Linked DNA regions of Homo sapiens. The gene in region 5 interacts genetically with the main gene of each other region. Each region holds a gene or a part of one and is shown on either strand. Other genes may lie near its edges.

Region 1 (3,996 bases), on a different chromosome or scaffold from region 5:
TCCTCTGCTGTGGAACAGAGGAGAGGCATGGTGAGCACTGCCCAAGTGCCAGGCCAGTCCCCCCATGAAGACCCCACTGCAGCAACACCGTCTGAGCCCCAGCCCCTTGCCCACTCACCAGGCCACCACTTACCTGCAGCAGGGGCAGAACCAGCAGCAGGGGCTGCAGAGCCTGGGGCAGCAGAGACGGCTACAGCCCCACCAGCAGGTACACTGGCAAGCTTGCCAATACCTACAGAAAGCAGAGAGGTGAGACCAGAGCAGCTGCCCAGCCTGGGAGGCTGTTCCACAGGGAAGTTAGATGGCACCAGAGATGGCACATGGCACCCAACATATCTGGACCCACCATATGCCAGTGTCTCCCGTTCTTCCTGAACACTCCCTCCCTGAGCCACTCCTCAACGGGGACTTCTCTTCCCCACCTTTCCTATCCAGGGACTTGCCTTCTAGGAATTAGGCCCACACTGCCTGCCTGCCCAATTTCCCCACCTCCACCCTCAGAGGTCCACTGGACAGACATGTTCATAACTAGGTAGGGAATGAGTGTGCTGCCCCAGTATCCACATCTCTGGCCACAACGCTGTGTTCATGGCTTGGCCCGTTTGCTGAGCTGGCCCTGTCGTGGTCACATGCATGGAAGACAAGAACAGCTGCCCCAACAGCTCAACTTCCAAACAAGTTCCACCAGCTCAGCTGAAGCCAACAAAAAACCATCTGCCCAACAAAGAGGCAAGGAGCCTATGGACATCCCTGGCACCCTCAGTCCCTGCCCCCAACCCCCTCACAGAAAGCATGTGGTAAGGACTGCTGACGTGAACTCAGTTCTCCAGACACCAAGCTTCAGACAAATCCTGGGGAATGGCCTCAGGGCTAGGAGCAGTCAGGCTTAAGAGGCAGGGCCACCTAAACGTCTGCTGAGAACACAGGGTGCCCCCTGCTGCCCTGCTCCTGAGAGTGTCTAGAAGTGCCCATGACGTGAGCCCACTGGAGCCCTGCTCACTCCTCGGGTGAGGCTTCTAGGGTGCTCTGGTCCACAAGCGAAACCTGGCAGGCCACAGATGGACCGGCAGGGATTAGGATGGACCATGAAAACAAACGAAAGCCCGTCCACATCAACTCACCCTGGGCAATGACGTCTTCAATGTTTTTTCCATTCAGCTCACTGATAACCTGAAGCAGACAATCACAGGGCTGTTACCAGGAATGTACGATTGTATCCCCGGCCCTCTCCCTCCCAGAGTCACAGCAGGACTGGGTTCCCCACATGGGAATAGGCCCTGAAGTTTCCAGAACTGCACTGCCCAAAGGGAGCCACCAGCCTCACTTGGGAAGTGATATAAAAATAAATGGACACTAGCTTTCTTAGACTTAGGACTGACAAAAGGACACAGGGCATCTCACTACTTATGTTGACTACTCATAGGTATCTTCAACACTGGCAAAATAAACTGGCAATGAAATTGACTTTGACTTCAGGCTGGAGTGCAGTGGTAGGATCTCACTGCAGCCTTGACCTCCCGGGCTCAAGTGACTATCCCACCTCAGTCTGGGACTACAGGCATGAGCAACCAAGCCTGGCTAATTTTTTATTGTATTTTAGAGACGAGGCCTGGTTCTGTTAGACTGCAGTGGCACAATCACTACTCAGTGCAGCCTTGACCTCTAAGGCTCAAATGATTCTCCCGCATCAGCCTCATGAGTAGCTGAGACTACAGATGTGCACCACTGCCTCCAACCATTTTTTTTTTTTTTTTTTTTTGTGGAGACCGGGTCTTGCAATGTTTTCCAGACCAGTCTCGAACTTCAAGGCTCCAATAATCCACTCGCCATGGCCTCCCAAAGCCGGGTGAGCCATGCGCCAGGACTGCTTTTTTTTTTTTTTAACGCAATCTTACGCAGCTCACTGGTATTAAACTTCCAAAGCTTGTTAATCACGATTTTGCCTCGTACCCACCCTGCTTTTTTTTTTTTTTTTCCTTTTGAGACAGGGTCTCCTTCTGCCACCCAGACTGGAGTACAGTGGCACGATCCGTGCAACCTCCATCTCCCGGGTTCGAGCGATTTTCCTGCCTCAGCCTCCCAAGTAGGGGGACTACAGGCACCCACCACCACGCCCGGCTAATTTTTGTATTTTTAGTAGGGATGGGGTTTCGACATGTTTACCAGGCTGGTCTCGAACCCCTGACCTCAGGTGATCCGCCTGCCTCGTCCTCCCAAAGTACTGGGACTACAGGCGTGAGCCACCGCGCCCGACCTCCGCCCGGCTTACTTCTCTATCCAAGAAATCGCCAACTAGACTGAAACGAGCCTCTCCCCGAACCCTCCAGCATGTGGCCGGATCAGGCAGAAGAATCGCCTGTATGGGACACTGGGGCCCCACGGCGGCTGCGGGGCAAGGGCGGCCGCTACCTTGTTGAGCCGGTCGTCGTCCGCCTCGATACCCACGCTGTCCAAGATCTTCTTGATGTCCTTGGCGCTGGGGGAGGAGTTGCCCCCTAGGGCAGCCAGCAGGTAGGAGGCGACGTAGCGCATCCTGAGGCGGGCGGAGAGGACGCGACGGCGGAGTTACCCCGGCGGCCTCCTGCCGGCCCATCCCGGGGCCGCCGGGCGAGGCCGCGCGTGGCTCGGCCCGTAGGCCTCCGTCCCAAAAATACCCCGCCGCCCACCCCGCATCCCCACGGACTCCGCGTCCCCAGCCGGCACCCCGGGCCCGGTCACCACACTCACGCGGCGGCGTCTGCGGCGGAGGCGGCGGAGAAGTCTCACGCGTGCGACCTCGGTGGCGACAGGGAGGAAAAGGAAGGCGCCGACGCAAGAGGCGGGGTTAAACCGCTACCCAGAAGGCTCTGGGACCCGTGCGCGGCGCCGCATGAGGCGCCTCAGAGTGACGTCACGAGGCGCTCAGCCAATGACGACGGGGAGGGAGTCGTTGACTCCTTCCCCCTCCCCCTTCCCAGCCCCCGTCAGGCACTTTTCGCGGCAAAGGCGAAGGGCAGCAGTTCCGGAAGTGACTGCTCTTATAGCGTGGGGCGAAGGGCCACCGAAACTCGTGGGGGCGTTGGACGAAGCGAGTCCAAAGGGACGGCATCTGCCTTCGGTACCTAGCACCCCCAGCATGCCACGCGGCGCCTACAGCTCCCAACATGGAGCGCGGCCGCCACGCCCGGGACTCAACCTTTGCCAGCGAACTGCAAGTCCCATGGTGCACCGCTGCCGGAAGTGGCCTGCGCCGCGGGCCTACCCGGAACGGCGCGTGGGCCCGGGCAGAAGCTGCTGGCGGTAGGCTCGCCTTGACTCCTTGGTGGTTCCCTGGCCGCGGCGACCGGTGGTCCCACGTCCAGCCGGGCTCAGTGAGGTGAGCCAGCCGCCTCGGACTTAGCGACTGCGGCCCTATCTGGGAGGCCGCCCCCGCACTGCGGTGTCAGGGCATCCTGTCAGAGGACGAGCGCGGGCCTTGGAGGGCAGGACAATGACGTGAGGCAGCGTCGCCCGCTCACCCCTGCGAGGAGTGAGGTCTGAGTGGTCAGCCCCTGCGCTGGCCGCTTTGGCCCGGAACTGACCTCGGTGTCCATGTGGACATCAGCACCTCAGGGACCCCGCTACATTCTCGGGTCCTGGGAGGGAACAGGGTTGGCCCTGCCTCCTAAGGACTTGAGTTCTTGTGCGAGGACGCAGGAGGTGAATAGGGAGGCGATCCGAAGGACAGGGACAGAGGGAGACTTGGTCCTCTGGGCAGCCTGAGAAAGCTTGAGCTGAGAGATGAGAAGGAGCCATCCCTGCCAATATCCCGGGCGAGCACCAGGAACAGGGTCAGATGCAGGTATCTACCGTGTTAGCAGGCAGCGCCAGCTCCCGTTGGGCTCTAACAGCAGTGCAAACCCTGGGGTGTGTATACGTCAAGCACTGGAACTCGACTTCACAGTCGCCTTCTGTGGCCTCGTTATCATTACCCCCATTTTATAGATGAGGCAGTTGGGTACAGAAAGGTTTTTTTGC
Region 2 (3,500 bases), on a different chromosome or scaffold from region 5:
AATGTGTACAGAAGTTCATCGAAATTGATCAAGCATGGAAAATTCTAGGAAATGAAGAGACAAAAAGAGAGTATGACCTGCAGCGGTGTGGTAGGTGCTTGTGTTGAGGAGCCACAGCACATCGGCAACTCTTAGAAGCACACTCTGCAGCCATTCCTGGGGAGCATTTTCCAGCATTTGCACCAAGTGTTATTGTTGCCTTTATTCCTCCCCTCCATCACTGTTTTTAATTATGCCCTATTCTTAGCAGTGACTATTGTGTATCCATTGAGAAGTTAACAAAACTACTAGGATGTGGCTTCTTGTGAAGCCTTGAAAGCTACTTTTTATAACATTTGAAAAATGTTTAATTACACATTACTAACTAATATGCTTTATATGTTTAAAAACTTTTTATTAAAATAAATATGGATTAACATTTTAATTGTACTTTTAAGACTATACAGTATAAATGACAATCCAAATGAAGATACTATATATCAGATGACATCATAAAGCACTCTGCTGTCTTTGAGCTCATTTTAGGCTGGGTTTCATGATTATCTTCATGATAAACTATTCCTTGTGATTGGTATAAATGATATTTTAGGAATGCACATTACCTAAGCAATTTTAAAAGTCATTTCTTTTATGCTTTTTAGAAAATAGCTTTTTAAAACAGTGACAAGCTGTTATGAGAAAGAAAGAGGGAAATGTAGGTCAGGTTTGTCACACATGGACTGCAGTTACACGAAGTGATAGGCTGTCTTTCAGCACTGGCCTAGGGACAGGAGTCCCTCAGCCTTGTGTTTGAACCTTCAATATGCACCCCACATGCTAATGGGAGGAGTCAATAATCAGTTACAGCCTGTGGGGAAAACACTCAGTCGCTCTCTCCAATAGCATATCAGGCTCAGCATTGACTGGGATGTGTTGATAAAAGCTGTCTCGTAGTCGCTTATTGAATCCCCTCCCATGCCCTACAATGGCACACCATCAGACCTCACAAAATGATTCTGAGGCTTTGTTAGTACTAAGGTTATGAAAATTTGATTTGAGAAGCAAGCCTTTATTTTTAAAACACAGCATTATAAGATGAAGCCAGTGACATTTGCAAGACATCCCTATTTATTTTCAGAGGGATTTCTACCAAGAAAATTAAGGTTTCTTATAGGCTGTGTGATACTTCTGTGTGGAAAGACTTGAACTGTTTATGTACTGGAGTATTTGTTTATAAGAGTGACTTATTTATAGTACTAATCAGCTCAAAGGCTTTACTACTTTTTAAAAGACTGATGAGCTTATTTTTTTCTTAAATATTAAGAACCTGATGGGTGTACCTTTGCTTTTCAAAGCAAAGGTTAATTTTCAAAAATGGCTTGAATATTGGGTTCTGCTTTTGCTGGGTGCATAATGAGCATCTGTCTAATGTATTTATTTTTTAAACATGTTTGTACTTTTTGCAAAAGAATGTAGAAGTGGCTTCGTTTGATGATAAGTTCTACCCGTTGGTGTATCTTTTTAACCTTGGTTCACATGATTTCTATGAAAGAATTGAAACTAATGCACATGAATGTGTTGTGTGTTAGAAGAAATCTACATTCCTAAAGCCACTACGCTCTACTGAAGATGATGATTCTTTCAGGTGTTTTTGCACATCTTTACTAGTCTCTACTATATAGGATGCCAGTTTGCTTGAGATAAAAATAATTCACACGACATTGTACCCTAAAGAGTATAGGGTATATACTTTCAATGTTGCTCTACATTTTTGCCACTCCACAGCCTGTGTACTATTAAGAACATATTAGTGAAGTTGACTAGAAGCCTGCTCTCTAAAGAGGTAGGGAGGGATCAGGAATCATAAAAATATTTTCTCAAGAAGCTACAGGGTGGGGTAGGCCAGAAACCAAAAGAAATAGGAAACCAGGTTAAAAGTTAGCAGAGAATTGCATGAAGAAAGATTTGAGAGATGTCAGAAGACAAATAATCATCATATTCATGCCTTTTTCATTGTCTTCGAAAGGTCCTTGGAACTGCGGATTTCTTTTGAGCTTTGAGTCCTACTTTTAAGATCTTAATGGAAGCACCTGTGGCCTACTGTGTCACAGGGTACTCCTGTAGGTCATAGATGAAGTCACAATGAAGTTTAGACAAAGTAAATACTGTGAGAGTTGGACCTGATTCATGATTCAGATAAATAGTTTGGAATTTATACAATATCAGTTTGCTCTGCAAGTTTTTCAGGCAGCATATTACTGAATTTAGCTGTTCTAGAAGGACAGCTTTTCATGACACTTTAGTACCTCAGATTTAAGTACTAAGTATTGCCTCTTTTACCAGAGGCTCCAAATACTGACACTACTTTGTTTCAATTTTAAATGGAGATTGACATACTGTTTAGGTAAGAAGAGTATCCAAATATAACTTGCTATTTTTAAGCCTTTCATACCAGAGCTATTTTTCAAAACTCTTACAATAAACCTACTTTCATATTGTTATTTCTTTTGAATACCGTTATTAATTTTTTCTTCTTGACTCAGCTTCAGTAAAATGGCTCCTCAAAAAAAGGAAATGAACTTGAACATCTCTAAAAGTGAGGATTTAGGTTTGCTAGAAGGAAAACCTTTGAGAGTAATAATTTGTTAAAGACCAGGATAGGTTACCGAGAGAGAGAGTTTGTTATAACCAGGTCAAAGCACTCTTTTTTTCTGGGTCACCCCCTGGGGACATGGAAATAGCTTTGTTATACAGAACTCTTTTTACATGTGGTGATAATTCATTGTAAACCTTTCTTTTCATAGGGGTGTGCTTTAAATATGTTTGTTTCCTGCCCACCATTAACTTGCAGTATAAAATAAAATTGAGCTCTCTAGTACTTGGGAAGGAGGTAGGAAATGCTTTATTGGCTGGTCTTGAATGCTTTCTCGTGTTTCATAGCTCCATGTTGGTGCTCTGTCTTAAGGAAAGCCTCATCAATATTGCCCACAGCCATATATTTATCTAAAAGATAATTTAAAGGGACACTTGACGTCCATATTTCTTTGCTTCTCAAAAGAAATGATCATATGTGTTCTTTCCAATAAAGAAAAAGTAATACTCCAGGGCAGATAACCCAAAGTATTGCATGTATGTTTTTTTCTCCTTCATTCCTACTTCTATATGCTTAGTTGACATTTTAGAGCAATGTTGGCCAGGCTGAAGAAAAGTAAATTTAAGAAAAGAATGAGTAATAATTAGTTCCCAGAGATTATACATTTCGAAAGCAATGTTAACTCTGAATTTAATCAATTAGTTCTAGTTGGCATATTAAACTTATTGTTTCTGAGGATGCCTCCAAAGGCTGCTTCCAGTGTTCCCCTGAAAGGCATGTAGTTTTTCAAGATTAGGCTTTGCATTTCAATTTTAAATGGAGATTGACCTACTGTTTAGGTAGCACTTTGGAAAACCCTTTCAGGATTTATAAAATGTTCACATGAATAATACCTGTTGAGTAGATTTTGTTGCCTTTATAAATCTTG
Region 3 (3,500 bases), on a different chromosome or scaffold from region 5:
GAAACCCACAAAAAGTCATCAGGGTTGAAGAATTTCTTTTTTTTTTTTTTCTTTCTTTTTTTTTTTTTTTTTTTTTTTTTTTTTTTTTGAGAAAGAGTCTCACTCTGTCGCCCAGGCTGGAGTGCAGTGGCGCGATATTGGCTCACGGCACCCTCCGCCTCCTGGCTTCAAGCAATACTCCTGCCTCAGCCTCCCAAGTAGCTGGGATTACAGGTGCCCGCCACCATGCCCAGCTAATTTTGGTAATTTTAGTAGAGACGAGATTTCACCATGTTGGCCAGGCTGTTCTCAAACTCCTGACCTCAGGTGATCCACCCACCTTGGCCTCCCAAAGGGCTGAGATTACAGGCGTGAGTGACCGCGCCCTGCCCTCCTTTTTGTCCTTATGACTGATGGATGGCCCATCTGGCAGGCAGCCTGGGCCCGCCCGTGTCCCTGTTTGGTGAGGGCAGGAAGCCAGGGCAAGGGGAGGCAGGTGGAAAGTCAAGCAGGAGGTCTGGGATCGGGGCATAGTGTGGCCTTGGCTCCTGACCCCTTCTTCCCTCAGGTGAAGGCGTTTGGGCCGGGGCTGCAGGGAGGCAGTGCGGGCTCCCCCGCCCGCTTCACCATCGACACCAAGGGCGCCGGCACAGGTGGCCTGGGCCTGACGGTGGAGGGCCCCTGTGAGGCGCAGCTCGAGTGCTTGGACAATGGGGATGGCACATGTTCCGTGTCCTACGTGCCCACCGAGCCCGGGGACTACAACATCAACATCCTCTTCGCTGACACCCACATCCCTGGCTCCCCATTCAAGGCCCACGTGGTTCCCTGCTTTGACGCATCCAAAGTCAAGTGCTCAGGCCCCGGGCTGGAGCGGGCCACCGCTGGGGAGGTGGGCCAATTCCAAGTGGACTGCTCGAGCGCGGGCAGCGCGGAGCTGACCATTGAGATCTGCTCGGAGGCGGGGCTTCCGGCCGAGGTGTACATCCAGGACCACGGTGATGGCACGCACACCATTACCTACATTCCCCTCTGCCCCGGGGCCTACACCGTCACCATCAAGTACGGCGGCCAGCCCGTGCCCAACTTCCCCAGCAAGCTGCAGGTGGAACCTGCGGTGGACACTTCCGGTGTCCAGTGCTATGGGCCTGGTATTGAGGGCCAGGGTGAGTTGCCCTGCCGTGGGGTATGTGACGGGGGACAGGGACCAGAACCCCCGAGCCCCAAGCCTCCTCTCTGTGCCTTTGCAGGTGTCTTCCGTGAGGCCACCACTGAGTTCAGTGTGGACGCCCGGGCTCTGACACAGACCGGAGGGCCGCACGTCAAGGCCCGTGTGGCCAACCCCTCAGGCAACCTGACGGAGACCTACGTTCAGGACCGTGGCGATGGCATGTACAAAGTGGAGTACACGCCTTACGAGGAGGGTGCGTGCTGGGGACTCCCACAGGCTGGCAGACGGGGTGGGTGGGGTGGCCCGGGCTCCTCCTGACCTGGCCTGCACTCCTCCAGGACTGCACTCCGTGGACGTGACCTATGACGGCAGTCCCGTGCCCAGCAGCCCCTTCCAGGTGCCCGTGACCGAGGGCTGCGACCCCTCCCGGGTGCGTGTCCACGGGCCAGGCATCCAAAGTGGCACCACCAACAAGCCCAACAAGTTCACTGTGGAGACCAGGTAAGGGAGCCCCCAGGAGCCCGTGTGGCTGGTGGGCCTGGGAACCCCAGGAATGACCGGCTGTCTGTTTGGACCAGGGGAGCTGGCACGGGCGGCCTGGGCCTGGCTGTAGAGGGCCCCTCCGAGGCCAAGATGTCCTGCATGGATAACAAGGACGGCAGCTGCTCGGTCGAGTACATCCCTTATGAGGCTGGCACCTACAGCCTCAACGTCACCTATGGTGGCCATCAAGTGCCAGGTGAGGAGGTGGCGGCCAGGGCAGGGCTGGGACTGTCTGCTCGTCCCCACCCTGTCTCATACAGCCGCCATCCCTTTGCCCCAACCCTCAGGCAGTCCTTTCAAGGTCCCTGTGCATGATGTGACAGATGCGTCCAAGGTCAAGTGCTCTGGGCCCGGCCTGAGCCCAGGCATGGTTCGTGCCAACCTCCCTCAGTCCTTCCAGGTGGACACAAGCAAGGCTGGTGTGGCCCCATTGCAGGTCAAAGTGCAAGGGCCCAAAGGTGAGTGTTTGCATGCCTGGAGCCAGGGGTCAGGAGGGCAGTGTCCTGTTTGAGGGCCGGGAAAGGAAACTGGAGGCCCAAAGTGAGGACCAGAGTGCAGAGGTGGTGCAAGTGTGTAGGTGTTTTTGGAAGAGCCTCAGGTGACAGTGCAGCCAGGTGGGGGACTTGGAGGAGGTAGAGCAGATGGGACTGGTCACTGAGCAGATGTGGCAGGAAGGCAGGCAGGCAAGGGTCCCAGCTGGCACCCAGATGGGTGTCTTTCGTGCCAGAGGGGGTCAAGGCCATTCCCAGGGTCGGGTGGATGAGGATAAAGCGAGGTCTAGGCCTGGGGCTGGGTCCTGGCCGTCCAGTGTGGTGGGGTAGGAATGGAGGCCCAGGAGACTAGCTGATGCTCTGTCCCTGGGGCTGGGGCCAGGCCTGGTGGAGCCAGTGGACGTGGTAGACAACGCTGATGGCACCCAGACCGTCAATTATGTGCCCAGCCGAGAAGGGCCCTACAGCATCTCAGTACTGTATGGAGATGAAGAGGTACCCCGGAGGTAAGAGGCAGGGCCTGCTGCCTGTGGGGAGTGGCCCAGGCTGGATGCTGAGAACCTGTCTGACTGCTCACAACACCAATCCCTCACAGCCCCTTCAAGGTCAAGGTGCTGCCTACTCATGATGCCAGCAAGGTGAAGGCCAGTGGCCCCGGGCTCAACACCACTGGCGTGCCTGCCAGCCTGCCCGTGGAGTTCACCATCGATGCAAAGGACGCCGGGGAGGGCCTGCTGGCTGTCCAGATCACGGTGAGCTCCGGGCACAGGCAGGGGAGGCAGGGGGGCCTGGGCGGCTGGAGTGTGGGCTGCGGGTGGCTGGTGTCTGATCTCCCTGCGGAGCTGCACCAAGGAGGGCAGGGAAGGACAGGGCCCCTGTCTTTGGTTTGCTAAGGTTGTGACTACCTTAGGATGGTGGTGACAGGCACAGGCTTCCCCAGACGTGCACTTGCTGCTAACTTTGAGCACGTCACCAAAGCCTTCTGTGCCTCAGTTTCCCCACCTGTAATATTCTCATGGGGCAGGTATAGGATAGAAGCTTGAGATCACCCCGGTGAGCTCCTCCTAGTGCTGGCCAGGCCCTGGGGCTGAGGATGGGTGCCAAGCTGGCTGGCCGCGCCTGTTGTCATGTGGGAAGTGTGGGATGTTTTAGTCTCCATTCTGGACTCTGCCAGGTGCAGGCAGCCCTTTTGGGCCATAGCAGTTAAGATGCCTGAGGCCCAGAGACTGTCCCTGTAGCAGCAGCGCTGGGCACTCTGGGAGCGCCTGAGGCAGGCCCGGGGCTACTCGGGCTTGGGCCAACTGCCTCCCCTGCCT
Region 4 (3,500 bases), on a different chromosome or scaffold from region 5:
GACTCGGGAGGCTGATGGGGCTGGTGGGCCACTGCTCCTCTCTCCCCCACTCATGGCTGTCAGGCTGGGATTGGTTCTGTTCTTGGATGAGGGCTCAGGTTGACCCTTGTGGACTCCAGGTAGCCGGTGATAGAAAGCAGCTGGCAAAACCCAAAGTGAATTCCCAAGCTGGGGTTCATACTCAGATCTCAACTCCACTGGAGTGGTGACCAAGATCCAACAAATCAACAGAAGGGGTTTCTGAGTCATTAAAAGCATAAAAGCTGAGGCATAAAGCTTCTGCGCTAAAGTCCTAGGAGAGTCCTCTAGGCTATCAGTGTGGGTTGACGTACTCTGTTTTTATACACAATTCTTTCAAGCTGAAATATCAACTTTCAGACAAAGAAGAGGATTTGGTAGAGTTAGGCATCTTGACAACCACGAGGCATTATTTATCTGTCCATTCTGTGTTTATTAAATACCTCTTTGGTGCTGGTTACCGTCTGGGTGCTGGAGATACAAAGATGAATGAGGCATGGTCCCTGCCCCAAAAGATCATCTAGGGAGACAGGCACTCAAACAGGCAGTCATGTTACAATGTGACAAGTAGGTACAAGAATCTAATGAGAGTACAGGAGCTCCTACTGTTCCTGGTGGGTGGTGGGGTTACTGAAGGCTGCACGGAGGAGGTGACACCCCTGTGCTTGTTCTTGGCAAATAACGAGGTCCTCAGAACGTTAACCTGCAGACAGAGTTTAGCACAGTGAGAGGTTATGGGAAACTATGGTGAGTTGAAGGAATGTTGAGTTGTTTGGTTGTCGATGAGGCTGCAAATATCAGAATGCAAGAGAATGGGGCAAAAGATTCCCTGACATACAAGTTTCTGCCTCAGGAGTTTGGATTTTATTCTGAAAACATAGGGAATCATTTAAGGGTTTTAAAGAAGAATGAAATTTGCATTTAAGAACACTTTGGAAGTTGTGAGGAAATGAATTGCCAGGCATGGTGGCATGTGCCTGTAGTCTCAGCTGCTGGGGATGCTGAGGCAGGAGGATCATAAGCCCAGGAGTTTGAGGCTGCAGCGAGCTATGATTGCACCTGTGAATAGTCATTGTACTCCAGCCTGGGAAAGATGGTCAGACCCCACCTCTTTAAAAAAAAAAAAAAAAAAAGAAGGGAATTGAAAATTTTTAAAAGAAAAGGGCTGGAGACAGAGAGCTCAGGAAGCTTTTTTAATAGTTGGAATAGTCTAAGCAAGACCAGGTGAGGTCTCAGCAGAGGGTAAGGATGGGGGAATGTGCAGTGTGTTGAAATTCAAGAGATATTTGAGAGAACCTAAAGGATTTAATTCTCTCCAGTTGGATTTGGGGGGAGCAAAGAAGAGAGAGGCCAGGTTTCAAGTTGAGCGGAGAGTTGTACCCTCACTGACCCAGAAGAAAACCAGAGGAGGAGCTTGTTTGTGAGACAAGACGATGGTTTTCTCTTTTTTTTTTTTTTTTTGAGATGGAGTCTCGCTCTGTCGCCCAGGCTGGAGTGCAGTGGCGCGGTCTCACTGCAAGCTCTGCCTCCCGGGTTCATGCCATTCTCCTGCCTCAGCCTCCCGAGTAGCTGGGACTACAGGTGCCCGCCACCACGCCCGGCTAATTTTTTGTATTTTTAGTAGAGATGGGGTTTCACCGTGTTAGTCAGGATGGTTTCGATCTCCTGATCTCATGATCCACCCGCCTCGGCTTCCCAAAGTGCTGAGATTACAGGCATGAGCCACTGCGCCCGGCCAAGATGATGGTTTTCATTTTGTGCCTGCTGAGTCTGGCAACCTCCAGCCAGACACATTCAGTGGGTGGTTAGAAATATGGTCCTAGAGATTAGAAAAGAAGCTAAAAATTGGAAATCCACATTGTAGTCATTTCTGTGTAGTTGGTAGTGAGGCTGTAGAAATAGCCTCTTCCTATGCTGTAGATGGGCCTGTTCCTATGCTGGTTGAGTTCTTACGGTGAGCTTCTATTGGCTGTAGTAGAGAAGAGACGGCCACTACACACCAGCATTTAATGATAGGGAGAGTTAGGGGGCCCAGCAAAGAGCACTGAGAGTGAGACCTTCCAGAAGACCCAGAAGCTAAGAAACAGGGGGTCTCAGTAAGGGAGCGTCAGGAATCAGATGCAGAAGAGTCCCTGATTAAGTTGGGGAAGAATCCCCTGGCTCTGACCATTAGATGCCATTGTTTCATCATTTCACTGAGACAGTGGAGAGAAAGATGAAACCCTGTTTTCAGTGAGACGAAGAGGGAGTGAGGGTGAGGAGGGGCATGGGGAGCTAGGCATTGAGGTGGGAAATAAATGGTGATACTTAGATTAAGATGGGCCAGGGGAGCTTTTAATGTAAGGCTCACACCTGTAATCCCAGCACTTTGGGAGACCAAGGCAGGCGATCACTTGAGGCCACGAGTTCAAGACCAGCCTGGCCAACATAGTGAAACTCCATCTCTACTAAAAATACAAAAAATTAGCTGGGTATGTTGGTACACACCTATAATCCCAGCTACTTGGGAGGCTGAGGCATGAGAATCACTAGAACCCAGGAGGTGGAGGTTGCAGTGAGCCAAGATAATGACACTGCATTCCAGCCTGGGTGACAGAGGGAGACTCTGCCTCTAAAGAAGAAAAAATTTCTTTTTAAAGATTATATTGGTCAGGAGCGGTGGCTCACACCTGTAGTCCCAGCACTTTGGGAGACCAGGGTAGGTAGATCACTTGAGCCCGGAAGTTTGAGACCAGCCTGGGCAACATGGCAAAACCCCATCTCTACAAAAAAAAAAACTTTAAAAATTAGCTGGTTGTGGTAACGTGCCTTAGCTACTTGGGAGGCTGAGATGAGAGGATCACCTGAGCCTAGAGAGGTGGAGGTTGCAGTAAGCCATTATTGTGCTACTGCACTCCAGCCTGGGCAACAGAGTGAGATGCTGTTTCAAAAAAAAAAAAAAATTTTTTTGTTTAAGGAGAGGCTTAACTATAATCTATAGAGAAGAATCTAGTCCAGAGGAAAGAGTTGAAGATCCTTGCTAATTGAGGAAGCAAAGGTTTGGACAGCAGAAAAAGAGAGGGGGCTCCTGAGCCAAGGGCAGGGGGTCCATCCCGGGGATGACCATGATCCCCCTGAGACTTCTATTAGTGTGGAGGCAGGTGAAGATCGGCTTGTGAGTGGAAGTCTGAGCTGAAAGGGGTTCTTGCTGATGACCTCTCATTTTGCTTTTGGAGAAATTTACACCGAGGAGGAGGTAAAATGAGAGACTTGGGGAAGGTAGAGAAGGTGGGGAGAGTTGCCTCCGGACCTGGAAAGAGTGGGCCAAGGGTGAGGGAAAGGATGCGAGGAGGCCCCGTAGTGTTGGTGGGCACCTGGCTGCAGGTGCCAGGATTTGTTTTTCTGACAGGCTGGTGAAGACAGCAACAGCAAGGGGAGAGGGCAAGCAACCTGAAACAGGCACCCAAGAATGGGGGAAATATTCTGTTCTGGGGTCATTTTTG
Region 5 (3,500 bases):
GGCAGTGGTAGAGGGAGTGGGGCGGCTGCCCATCCACCACGTACCCCCGCAGGTGCTGCTGTCCCTGGAGCACGGGCTCTGGGCCCCCAACCTGCACTTCCATAGCCCCAACCCTGAGATCCCAGCGCTGTTGGATGGGCGGCTGCAGGTGGTGGACCAGCCCCTGCCCGTCCGTGGCGGCAACGTGGGCATCAACTCCTTTGGCTTCGGGGGCTCCAACGTGCACATCATCCTGAGGCCCAACACGCAGCCGCCCCCCGCACCCGCCCCACATGCCACCCTGCCCCGTCTGCTGCGGGCCAGCGGACGCACCCCTGAGGCCGTGCAGAAGCTGCTGGAGCAGGGCCTCCGGCACAGCCAGGACCTGGCTTTCCTGAGCATGCTGAACGACATCGCGGCTGTCCCCGCCACCGCCATGCCCTTCCGTGGCTACGCTGTGCTGGGTGGTGAGCGCGGTGGCCCAGAGGTGCAGCAGGTGCCCGCTGGCGAGCGCCCGCTCTGGTTCATCTGCTCTGGTGAGCCCACACTCTGCCCCCAAGGTGGTCCCTTCCCTGGGGAAAGGCAGGCGAACTGGAGCTGGTGGTCCCCTGAGGTGCTCTCTGGGACGGGGATGGGCACACAGTGGCACGGGATGGGGCTGAGCCTCGTGACGTGCTCTCTGGGACAGGGATGGGCACACAGTGGCGCGGGATGGGGCTGAGCCTCATGCGCCTGGACCGCTTCCGAGATTCCATCCTACGCTCCGATGAGGCTGTGAAGCCATTCGGCCTGAAGGTGTCACAGCTGCTGCTGAGCACAGACGAGAGCACCTTTGATGACATCGTCCATTCGTTTGTGAGCCTGACTGCCATCCAGGTAGGGCCCAGCCTGCCAGCGTGTGAGCAACGCCAGCCCCAGGGCTCTGGCTTTCCCTGGAGCCCAGGAGCTGCAGTGTTGAGTCCGGGGCCCCTGACAGCCCCTTTGCTAGGCAGAGCCTTGTGCTGGGGGCAGGACGGGAGGGGAGGAGGGGTCTCAGTGGGGCTGTGTGGGGGCCATAGGGGCTTCTTTCCTATCAGGAGACCTGGGAGGGTCGATGGGGCGCGGGGGTGGAGATGGCCTAGTGGGGCCGGGGGCCGCCCCCAACAGCTGCACCTGCTGGAGGTTGCAACCTGAGTGTCCTGTTCCCACCCCAGATAGGCCTCATAGACCTGCTGAGCTGCATGGGGCTGAGGCCAGATGGCATCGTCGGCCACTCCCTGGGGGAGGTGGCCTGTGGCTACGCCGACGGCTGCCTGTCCCAGGAGGAGGCCGTCCTCGCTGCCTACTGGAGGGGACAGTGCATCAAAGAAGCCCATCTCCCGCCGGGCGCCATGGCAGCCGTGGGTAGGTCTCCCGGAGGGGCCCCCAGCACCTCCAAGAAAGGAGGCTGCCTTCTCGCTGTGGGGTCCTCACCTGCAGCCCTGGCCTGGCCCCCGTAGGATAGAGTGGCCCCCGCTGGCCCGGGGACACCCAGCTCGGACACAGCCGTGCGCGAGTCCCCTGCAGCTGCCCCACTGGCCCCACACCTGGCAGCCTTGGGCCTAGGCACGTGTCCATGGGCATCAGGCCTGCGTGGAGCCCCCGTGTGATGAGCACACAGCTGCAGCATAGCAAGAACCCAGGGGCTCTGGTGAAGCCAACACACGGGTCATCAGGGTTCCCTCAGACTGGTGCCCTCTGTTGGCACCCATCTCTGAGCCCCATGGGCCACATGTGGGCAGGACCTGGAAAGAACCTTGGCTGCAGAGGACTGAGGGGGCCACCATCTGGGGACTGGGCTCCCAGGAGCTGCCCCTGGAGTGGCAGCTCTGTAATGACACCTCCACCCACGGGTCAAACACAGCAGGGGGCGAACCTTTCTCATGAAGGCTCCAAGGCTGCCATTACCACACTTGTCATTACTGCCCCCAGCTGCAGGCAGTGTCTGGGTGGGTGGGTGGCTGGGAGCGGCTCGGTGTCCACGCTAAGCCTCTGAGGCTGGCTCTGCCATAGGCTTGTCCTGGGAGGAGTGTAAACAGCGCTGCCCCCCGGGCGTGGTGCCCGCCTGCCACAACTCCAAGGACACAGTCACCATCTCGGGACCTCAGGTGGGTGCTGCGGCCTGGGCGGGCTCCTCTGTCCCCTGCGCCTGCCATTGCAAGTCTGGCAGGGACACGCGGCCACGGTCTACGCCCCACCAAGCTCTGACGGGCCTGGGGCATGGGGCAGGTTTGTCCTCAGGTCCCTTGCCCATTCCCTCTCGGTTCCCTTGGGGTGAGGTGGGTGCGCCCTACCTCTCCGAGCCTGAGGTGGGTGCCCAGCCAGGATGCTTATCCAGGCTCCCACGATGTCCAGGCCCCGGTGTTTGAGTTCGTGGAGCAGCTGAGGAAGGAGGGTGTGTTTGCCAAGGAGGTGCGGACCGGCGGTATGGCCTTCCACTCCTACTTCATGGAGGCCATCGCACCCCCACTGCTGCAGGAGCTCAAGAAGGTGGACTAATACGGCCTGGGGGGTGCGGGGCGGGCCAGGGGACCCACAACCCAGCACTGACCTGGCCCCTCATGCAGGTGATCCGGGAGCCGAAGCCACGTTCAGCCCGCTGGCTCAGCACCTCTATCCCCGAGGCCCAGTGGCACAGCAGCCTGGCACGCACGTCCTCCGCCGAGTACAATGTCAACAACCTGGTGAGCCCTGTGCTGTTCCAGGAGGCCCTGTGGCACGTGCCTGAGCACGCGGTGGTGCTGGAGATCGCGCCCCACGCCCTGCTGCAGGTAGGCCCAGCCTGGGGGCAGCAGGCGCCGGGAGCCTGGGATGGGCGCCTCAGCTGAGCACCAAGAGAGCCCACCTGCCCTGCCGCCCCCAGGCTGTCCTGAAGCGTGGCCTGAAGCCGAGCTGCACCATCATCCCCCTGATGAAGAAGGATCACAGGGACAACCTGGAGTTCTTCCTGGCCGGCATCGGCAGGCTGCACCTCTCAGGGTGGGTCCCTTCCCAGCCCGGGTCTCGTCTCCCGGAGTCGGGGACGGCGTGGGGTGGGTGAGCGGGGCTGCGGGCCCCTCACTGACCCAGGCCGGTGGCAGCAGCCCTGGATGGTCCACCGCAGGCAGTGGGTGGGCTGAACCCAGAGCCCCTGGACCCCGGTGACGGGTGTGCTACCCATGCCTCCCTTCTCCGTAGCATCGACGCCAACCCCAATGCCTTGTTCCCACCTGTGGAGTTCCCAGCTCCCCGAGGAACTCCCCTCATCTCCCCACTCATCAAGTGGGACCACAGCCTGGCCTGGGACGTGCCGGCCGCCGAGGACTTCCCCAACGGTTCAGGTTCCCCCTCAGCCGCCATCTACAACATCGGTGAGCAGGGGCCCGGCGGGTGGGCAGACTCTTCCCTCCCCACAGACGCCCGCTCTGTGCTGAGGCCTGTGCCCTCCCGCAGACACCAGCTCCGAGTCTCCTGACCACTACCTGGTGGACCACACCCTCGACGGTCGCGTCCTCTTCCCCGCC
Region 6 (3,500 bases), on a different chromosome or scaffold from region 5:
AGCACAGTGGACCCAGAGGGTTTGACTTGGCAGTATGATGAAAAATTGTAGTCTGATGTGAATGGTCAGAAGAGAGAGAGATGGAATATTTGAAGATTGTGAGCAGGAAGTACATGCTTTTTTTTCTCAAGAAAGATGATGACATAGGTTGACTGTGAGGGAATGTATAGAGATGTCATGACTTAACTAGTGATTTGAGCTCCAGAATGTTAAATGTGCAAGAGACGTGTCATGGAGCCCCTTCTAGTGGCAATAGTTACAGTAAAGTAGGGGAGACATGAACCAATTAAACACACAAATAATTGAAAGTCTTAATTGTTTCACTCCATATGTTATTTTTGTATGTGTGATTTATTTTATTTTACTTTTACATTTTTTATTTTTTTGAGACAGAGTCTCACTGTGTCGCCCAGCCTGGAGTGCAGTGGCGCAATCTCGGCCCACTTCACCCTCTGCCCCACCTCCTGGGCTCAAGTGATTCTTCTGCCTCAGCCTCCTGAGTAGCTGGGACAGGCACGCGTCACCATGCCTGGCTAGGAATTTTGTATTTTTAATGGAGACGGGGTTTCACCATGTTGGCCAGGCTGATCTCGAACTCCTGACCTCAAGTGATCCACCCTCCTCAGCCTCCCAAATTGCTGGGATTACAGGCGTGAGCCACGGCATCTGGCCTTTATATGTGCTTTTAGGATTGTAGAAGATGTACCTTGGCTGGATGCATTGGCTCATGCCTGTAATCCCAGCACTTTGGGAGGCCGAAACAAGAGGATCGCTTGAGTCCAGGAGTTCGAGACCAGCCTGGGCAATGTAGTAAGACCTCATTTCTACAAGAAATAAAAAAATAACTGGGCGTGGTAGCTTACGTCTGTAATCCCAGCTACTCCAGAGGCTGAGGCAGGAGAATTGCTTGAACCTGGGAGACAGGTTGCAGTGAGCCAAGATCGCATCACTATACTCCAGCCTTGGCGACAAGAGCAAAACTCCATCTCAAAAATTAAAAATAAATAAGTAAATAAATAAATAAATTACAGGCACATTAGCATGTGCCTGTGGTCCCAGCTACTTGGGAGGCTGAGATGAGGGGATCACTTGAGTCCAGGAGGTGGTGGTTTTAATGAGCTGGGATTGTGCCACTGTACTCCAGCCTGGGCGACAGAGCAGACCCCTGGTGAAAAGAAAAAAGAAAATGTATCTCAAATAATACTTAATTTTAAAGAAATCTTAAATGTAGAATGTGATTCCATAATTATAATATTGACTAGTTCACTGCAACCTTGAACCCCTGGGCTCAAGTGATTCTCTCACCTCAGCCTTCCAAGTATCTGGGACTACAGGCATGCACCACCATGCCTAATTTTTTATTTTTGGTAGAGGCAGGGTCTCCCTGTATTGCCCAGGCTGATCTCAAACTCCTGCCCATGATCCTCCCGCCTTGGCCTACGAAAGTGCTGGGATTACAGGTATCTGCTACTGTGCCTGGCCTGTAGAAAAATTTATAGCTGAAGGACTGGGAGTGTGTGTATGGGAATAACAGTAGTTATCTCTGAGAAAGGGGTTGGAACCTGTGTGGAGACAGAAAGGAGAGATTTTCACAATTCTGTAGCATCTGTATAGTTTTAATATTTATTTATTTATTTCAAATTTTAATAGAGACAGGGTCTTGGTATGTTGCCCTGGCTGGTTTCGAACTCCTGAGCTCAAGTAACCTCTGCCTCTCTTCCCACAGTGCTGGGATTACAGATGTGAGCCACTGCTCCTGGCCTACTTTGAATTTTTAATGATGGTGATGAATTAATTTGTGACTAGCATTATAAGAAAAATAAAATTTAGAGTTTAAGTGACATTGTAGGTAGATTTTGATTCAGAAGTTTTAAGTTTAGAGAATGAATTTGAACACTTATCACTGATAAGTTACAATGTTTAGGGTCCCAAAATATTGCAGCTGTCAAATGATAAAATATATAAAAATAAAATTTAGTATTCATAAGGACATAAATGCAACCAGACATAGGAATTTTAATAATTTGACGAGTCAGTTTTCTTTTCAGTAAGGTTTAACAGTCTGTATTTGCAGCTACATTGCTTTCAACCAGGTGTGTCTAGTCTGTGATCCAGATTGCTTCTGAAATTTTGTTAGCAAGGTGCTCATAATTGCTTTTTTGTCATTGAATTTAAGTTGCCATTTATTGAGAATGATGCCTGTAGGTTCAAGCATCTGCTTCAGTTATGGAGTTATTTTATTCCAAGTATATTCCATTAGTAAGAAAGCTTACACTTGTGAAGTGCATGCTGATTTGGGGGTAGAGAATCTATGCTTATACAGCTACTGTGTGTGCTCTTAGAGCAATTACTGAAGAGTGGCGGAAAGTTGATATTAGGCTTTTGTCATTACCTTACTTAAGAACTGTTTATTGGGAGTTTAGGCCGGGTGCAGTGGCTTATGCCTGTAATCCTAGCACTTTGGGAGGCTGAGGCGAGTGGATCACCTGAGGTCAGGAGTTCGAGACCAGCCTAGCCAACATGGCGAAACCCCATCTCTACTAAAAATACAAAAAATTAGCCGGGCATGGCGGCGGCCACTGTAATTCCAGCTACTTGGGAGGCTGAGGCAGGAGAATTGCTGGAACCTGGGAGGTGGAGGTTGCAGTGAGCTGAGATGGCGCCAGCCTTGGCGACAAAGCGAGACTCTGTTTCAAAAAAACAAAAAACAAAAAACTGTTTATTGGGAGTTTTGATAAGACAAGTCAAAGACCTGAAAATAGAGGTCAGACTAACGATTTCTGCTCTAACAAGCATCATTGTGAGTTGTGAATGCCTCCCTTGTGAACATGCCCTGTGTACCTGATGAATTGCTGCCAGTATTGTCTCGGGCACCCCAAGATTACAGTTAACCCGGTATCCCCGCAGGTGGAATGTCTTGGGCTAGTAGTGCTATCAAGGGACAGGGCTATGAAACTGACAGGTTCAACTTCTTAGCTCCCATTTTCCTCATCAGGTATGTCTGAGGCTAATCCCCTTCCTTCTTCTAGCTCTGTTACTTTTTTGTTTGTTTCTTTGTTTGTTTTTTTGAGACGGAGTCTTGCTCTGTTGCCCAGGCTGGAGTGCAGTGGTGCAGTCTAGGTTCACTGCAACCTCTGCCTCCCAGGTTCAAGCTATTCTCGTGCCTCAGCCTCCCGAGTAGCTGAGACTACAGGCACGTGCCACCACAGCTGGCTATTTTTTTTTTTTTATTTTTATTTTTAGTAGAGACGGGGTTTCACCATGTTGGTTAGGCTGGTCTTGAACTCCTGACCTCGTGATCCGCCCGCCTCGGCCTCCCAAAGTGTCGGGATTACAGGTGTGAGCCACTGTGCCCAGCCAAAATGTTCTTAAGCTCTCAAGATTCATATAGTGAGCCATTATAAACCAAGGAGATTGGAGTTAGAAGTATTATTAAAGTTGAATGCTGTTGTTGAGTTACATTATTAAAAACAGTGAATTTAATATTGCATTACTTAATC
Region 7 (3,500 bases), on a different chromosome or scaffold from region 5:
TAAAAATTAACAAAATGTGACAGAGACAGGAAATAAGCCCATGCTATTCAAAAAATGGCACTGACAGATTTGCTTGAGGCAGGGTTGCCAAAAACTTTCAATGTGCAAAAAACCTAGCATTTACAAAGTGCATCAAAGCAATGTGCAATAAAACAAGGTGCTCCTGTAATAGAATGCTGGGAGGGGTGGTATGATCATTTACTTTGGATGTTTAAAGGTTTTAGTACTGATAGCTTAATAGGAATATCTAGTTCTTTCAGGCATCAACAAGAGTAAAAGTACTGAAGTAGTATTTTTCTCCAACTGAATCAATCAGTGGGATGGAATTTACCTCATTTTATGTTCTCTTTCTCCTTTTCCATTACCTGCTCTCTATGCTTCACCCAACCCATTCTTTCATGACCTCAAGTTTACCCAGCAAAATCTTCACATCTACCATCACCTGTACCAGAACTTGTATTTCTCTAATTTTTCAGTGGACTAAATCCTTCACGTTTTACCTTATATCTTGCTAAAACACTTTTGCTAGCTAATCCTAGTTTATTCTAGATTCCTTTATTATCATCTCTCATCATATATTCTACTTTCTCTCTTATTTCATAGCATTTTTTATTATTTGTAATTATTTAGTCATCTGTGTGATTTTTTGTTGTTTAATTTAAGGATCCCCTCTTTCTAGAGGAAAAGCCCCATGAATGGAAAAGCCCCTTGAACTGTGCCTATTTTGCTCACTCCAGGATGAGTATTATTTCTTAGTATTATTTCTTTAAACTGAACAACTCTAGTAAGATTCCATTCTTATATCAGAAAGTAAAATGACTATAAGATAGCATGAGACATTAATTTTGTGACAAAAGTTATAAATGTAGCATTGGTTCTAAGAGATGAAATCCTTGCTCTTCTGAGGGTCTGCAGAGAACAACGAACAGAGCTAGACAAATATAATTTGGAGGTAAGAATGCAAATAAAAAACTCAAATTATTAAATTATGTATGTAATACATCCAGTTCCAAATGCAAAAGAAATAGTCCTTGATTTTCATACACTACCATATTATCATTTTATAGAAAGATTTCCATGATTTATTTTAAAATGCACAGGATATTCTCTCTCTTACACACACACATGCACACTCTTTTTTTTTTAGATGGAGTCTCGTTCTGTCGTCAGGCTGGAGTACAGTGGCACAATCTCGGCTCACAGCAACCTCTGCCTCCCGGGTTCAAGCAATTCTCCTGCCTCAGACTCCCGAGTAGCTGGGATTACAGGCGCCCGCCACCACGCCCGGCTAATTTTTGTAGTTTCAGTAGAGACAGGGTTTCACCATGTTGGCCAGGATGGTCTAGATCTCTTGACCTTGTGATCCGCCCGCCTCGGCCTCCCAAAGTGCTGGGATTACAGGCATGAGCCACCGCACCCGGCCATGCACGCTCTTTTGAGCACAAACACACACATACACACAGATACAAAGACACAGACATTGAACAGATATAAATATATACTATGTCAAATAACTATTGTCAAAATTTTACCAATTTTAGTGTACCAGTTTTAGTTTAACCCAAAAAGCTGTCACTGTTTAGAACTTTGAAATAACAAAATGCTATTTACTCTAATAAGTTATTCCTCTTCCAAATGTGGCATAGACACAAAAGAGGGAGAAAAAGGAGAAAAAGTCCTATAGGGACATACTATAACATAAGACAAGATGTACCAACCACAAGGGGAATAGAGATAGAGGAAAATATCTCTATTTCAGCAAAAACAAATCATTTCACCTTCAAACAATACGATTATGTTTTAAAGAACCAGTGAGGATCAGTTTCAAATTACTATTAGTGTAAACTACTCAAGTAGAATGATCTGTTGAAATGGGATTGTTCTGAATTACAACAGAAAGGCCTTCCACACTGCGGAAAGCAGAAGGCCACCCTTAGTTAACTTATAATCCAGATACTCATTTCCAAATTTTAAATTAAAAGAAAATACAAATTTTAAGCTTCTTACCATATCTGCCAGAGAAATATAGAGGAACATGCCTCCAGCAAGTGCAAATATAATATTTGGAGCGAAATTGTTGCCCACCAAAATGCCAAAAGCTAGCCCAACATAGCAGGAACATGCAGAAAGGAAGTTGAATAGCAAGGCTTGTCGAGTGCTCATCCCTGCATTGAGTAGGATCACAAAGTCTCCTAGAAGAAGAAGAAGAAAATATCAAGTGAATAGTTTTTTTTTTATTTCTGGATGATATCAAAGATAATCATCAATGTCCAACAAGGTCTTCATTTTAGTGCATCAGAAGGATTTTAAGAGCATGTCACCTGAAAAGTCTCATTCCACTGAAATCAAGAAGTAAGCAGACTTTTACAATATGAACAGAGCTCCTTACCTAACTCGTGGGGAAACTCCTCACATAGGATTGCTATGGAAGTACTGAGTCCCTGAAGGAGAGACAAGGTGCAGGAAGCCCCAATCGCCAGGCCATCGATGAAATTGTGGAGGGCATCGCAGAGCGTTATCATCCAGGCAATCGTCCCTATTTCTGACAGTTTGGGCCCCTTCAAACAGGTACATGAACTTGGCTCTTTTTTTCCATCCTAGCAGAAAATCAATTAAAATGATAACCAACATTTCTTGAAAGTCTCAGAAATACAGACAAGTTGGAGATGGGTTGTGCTTGAGAAAAACAAATTGTTCCAACAGAAAGTCTTTTAGAGTAACTAGGAAACCCTAATAATATATAACAGAGCAAAGAAAACTTATGGTTGAGAGAAAGGAAATTCATCAACTGACACACCTCGAATAAGCCACTAACAGATATTTTCCTTTACTTTCCCTTTAAAACAATTCTTTTGACTTGTATAAACTTCTTCCTACTGCCTTTCTAAAATGTAGCAGATATTAACCTAAGAAATTTATTTATACACAAGATTTAAAATGAAGGAAGTTATTCAAAGACTAAACTTAAAGTCTTTTTTATGTTACAATTTAAATGTGAAATCCACAACTAGAGCATGATGAATGACATCAGCAACATTTGTTCTAACCCCTCCTATGCCACCATGTGACAGGGAGCAAGTTATCACAGAGTTCCTTCAACTGTGAAATGAAGACATTGTACTAAATGATTCATTTATTTATCAACAACTTATTGAGTTTCCATTCTGTTCCAGGTACCCTGTGGAGGGTTTAGGCTGTAACAATATGGTCTCTACCAGCTCCAAAGCTTAATTATTTTCTTAACAAATTGCATGAAGTGTAAATGGAACAGGCTAGCCTTTACACTAACACTTCCTTTCATGTAGAAACAATTAAAAAATAGAAAATCCTGTGATGGACTCTTTGTAGGAATTTAGATTTCCAGAAAATTTACAAAATTGTACAAAATCAAATGACAAATGCCAACTAAAACACTTTCCAGAAGTTGTAGAAAAAGATAAAATGCAAATTCATTTTTAAGTACAAAAGCACTTTGCAATTAACTGGAGAACATTTTATTC

Evidence for each region.
Region 1: changes in FASN (region 5) and RPLP2 together harm fitness less than expected from each alone (positive genetic interaction), as found in Homo sapiens cells (one large-scale study listed by BioGRID).
Region 2: changes in FASN (region 5) and DNAJC24 together harm fitness less than expected from each alone (positive genetic interaction), as found in Homo sapiens cells (one large-scale study listed by BioGRID).
Region 3: changes in FASN (region 5) and FLNA together harm fitness more than expected from each alone (negative genetic interaction), as found in Homo sapiens cells (one large-scale study listed by BioGRID).
Region 4: changes in FASN (region 5) and CAMK2G together harm fitness less than expected from each alone (positive genetic interaction), as found in Homo sapiens cells (one large-scale study listed by BioGRID).
Region 6: changes in FASN (region 5) and GFPT1 together harm fitness more than expected from each alone (negative genetic interaction), as found in Homo sapiens cells (one large-scale study listed by BioGRID).
Region 7: changes in FASN (region 5) and SLC39A8 together harm fitness more than expected from each alone (negative genetic interaction), as found in Homo sapiens cells (one large-scale study listed by BioGRID).

The regions. Positions count from the first base shown.
Region 1 is NC_000011.10:808,771-812,766, reverse strand, and holds the start of RPLP2 (large ribosomal subunit protein P2), read right to left. Parts: upstream 2,801-3,996; 5' UTR 2,728-2,800; intron 2,534-2,727; 5' UTR 2,533-2,533; coding exon 2,410-2,532; intron 1,171-2,409; coding exon 1,122-1,170; intron 1,087-1,121; exon of another isoform or gene 953-1,086; intron 233-952; coding exon 134-232; intron 8-133; coding exon 1-7. Other genes in the region: PIDD1 (p53-induced death domain-containing protein 1), read left to right, coding at 3,815-3,820. UniProt on the Homo sapiens protein: Plays an important role in the elongation step of protein synthesis.
Region 2 is NC_000011.10:31,414,860-31,418,359, forward strand, and holds part of DNAJC24 (dnaJ homolog subfamily C member 24), read left to right. Parts: coding exon 1-90; intron 91-3,500. UniProt on the Homo sapiens protein: Stimulates the ATPase activity of several Hsp70-type chaperones. This ability is enhanced by iron-binding. The iron-bound form is redox-active and can function as electron carrier.
Region 3 is NC_000023.11:154,357,635-154,361,134, reverse strand, and holds part of FLNA (filamin-A), read left to right. Parts: intron 1-547; coding exon 548-1,145; intron 1,146-1,229; coding exon 1,230-1,403; intron 1,404-1,488; coding exon 1,489-1,651; intron 1,652-1,728; coding exon 1,729-1,889; intron 1,890-1,980; coding exon 1,981-2,151; intron 2,152-2,566; coding exon 2,567-2,690; intron 2,691-2,779; coding exon 2,780-2,936; intron 2,937-3,500. UniProt on the Homo sapiens protein: Promotes orthogonal branching of actin filaments and links actin filaments to membrane glycoproteins. Anchors various transmembrane proteins to the actin cytoskeleton and serves as a scaffold for a wide range of cytoplasmic signaling proteins.
Region 4 is NC_000010.11:73,843,556-73,847,055, reverse strand, and holds part of CAMK2G (calcium/calmodulin-dependent protein kinase type II subunit gamma), read left to right. Parts: intron 1-3,500.
Region 5 is NC_000017.11:82,088,237-82,091,736, reverse strand, and holds part of FASN (fatty acid synthase), read left to right. Parts: intron 1-52; coding exon 53-515; intron 516-667; coding exon 668-855; intron 856-1,172; coding exon 1,173-1,362; intron 1,363-1,596; exon of another isoform or gene 1,597-1,777; intron 1,778-2,010; coding exon 2,011-2,105; intron 2,106-2,352; coding exon 2,353-2,487; intron 2,488-2,564; coding exon 2,565-2,768; intron 2,769-2,860; coding exon 2,861-2,976; intron 2,977-3,174; coding exon 3,175-3,347; intron 3,348-3,429; coding exon 3,430-3,500. UniProt on the Homo sapiens protein: Fatty acid synthetase is a multifunctional enzyme that catalyzes the de novo biosynthesis of long-chain saturated fatty acids starting from acetyl-CoA and malonyl-CoA in the presence of NADPH.
Region 6 is NC_000002.12:69,377,228-69,380,727, reverse strand, and holds part of GFPT1 (glutamine--fructose-6-phosphate aminotransferase [isomerizing] 1), read left to right. Parts: intron 1-3,500.
Region 7 is NC_000004.12:102,265,483-102,268,982, forward strand, and holds part of SLC39A8 (metal cation symporter ZIP8 isoform a precursor), read right to left. Parts: intron 2,598-3,500; coding exon 2,390-2,597; intron 2,193-2,389; coding exon 2,008-2,192; intron 1-2,007. UniProt on the Homo sapiens protein: Electroneutral divalent metal cation:bicarbonate symporter of the plasma membrane mediating the cellular uptake of zinc and manganese, two divalent metal cations important for development, tissue homeostasis and immunity.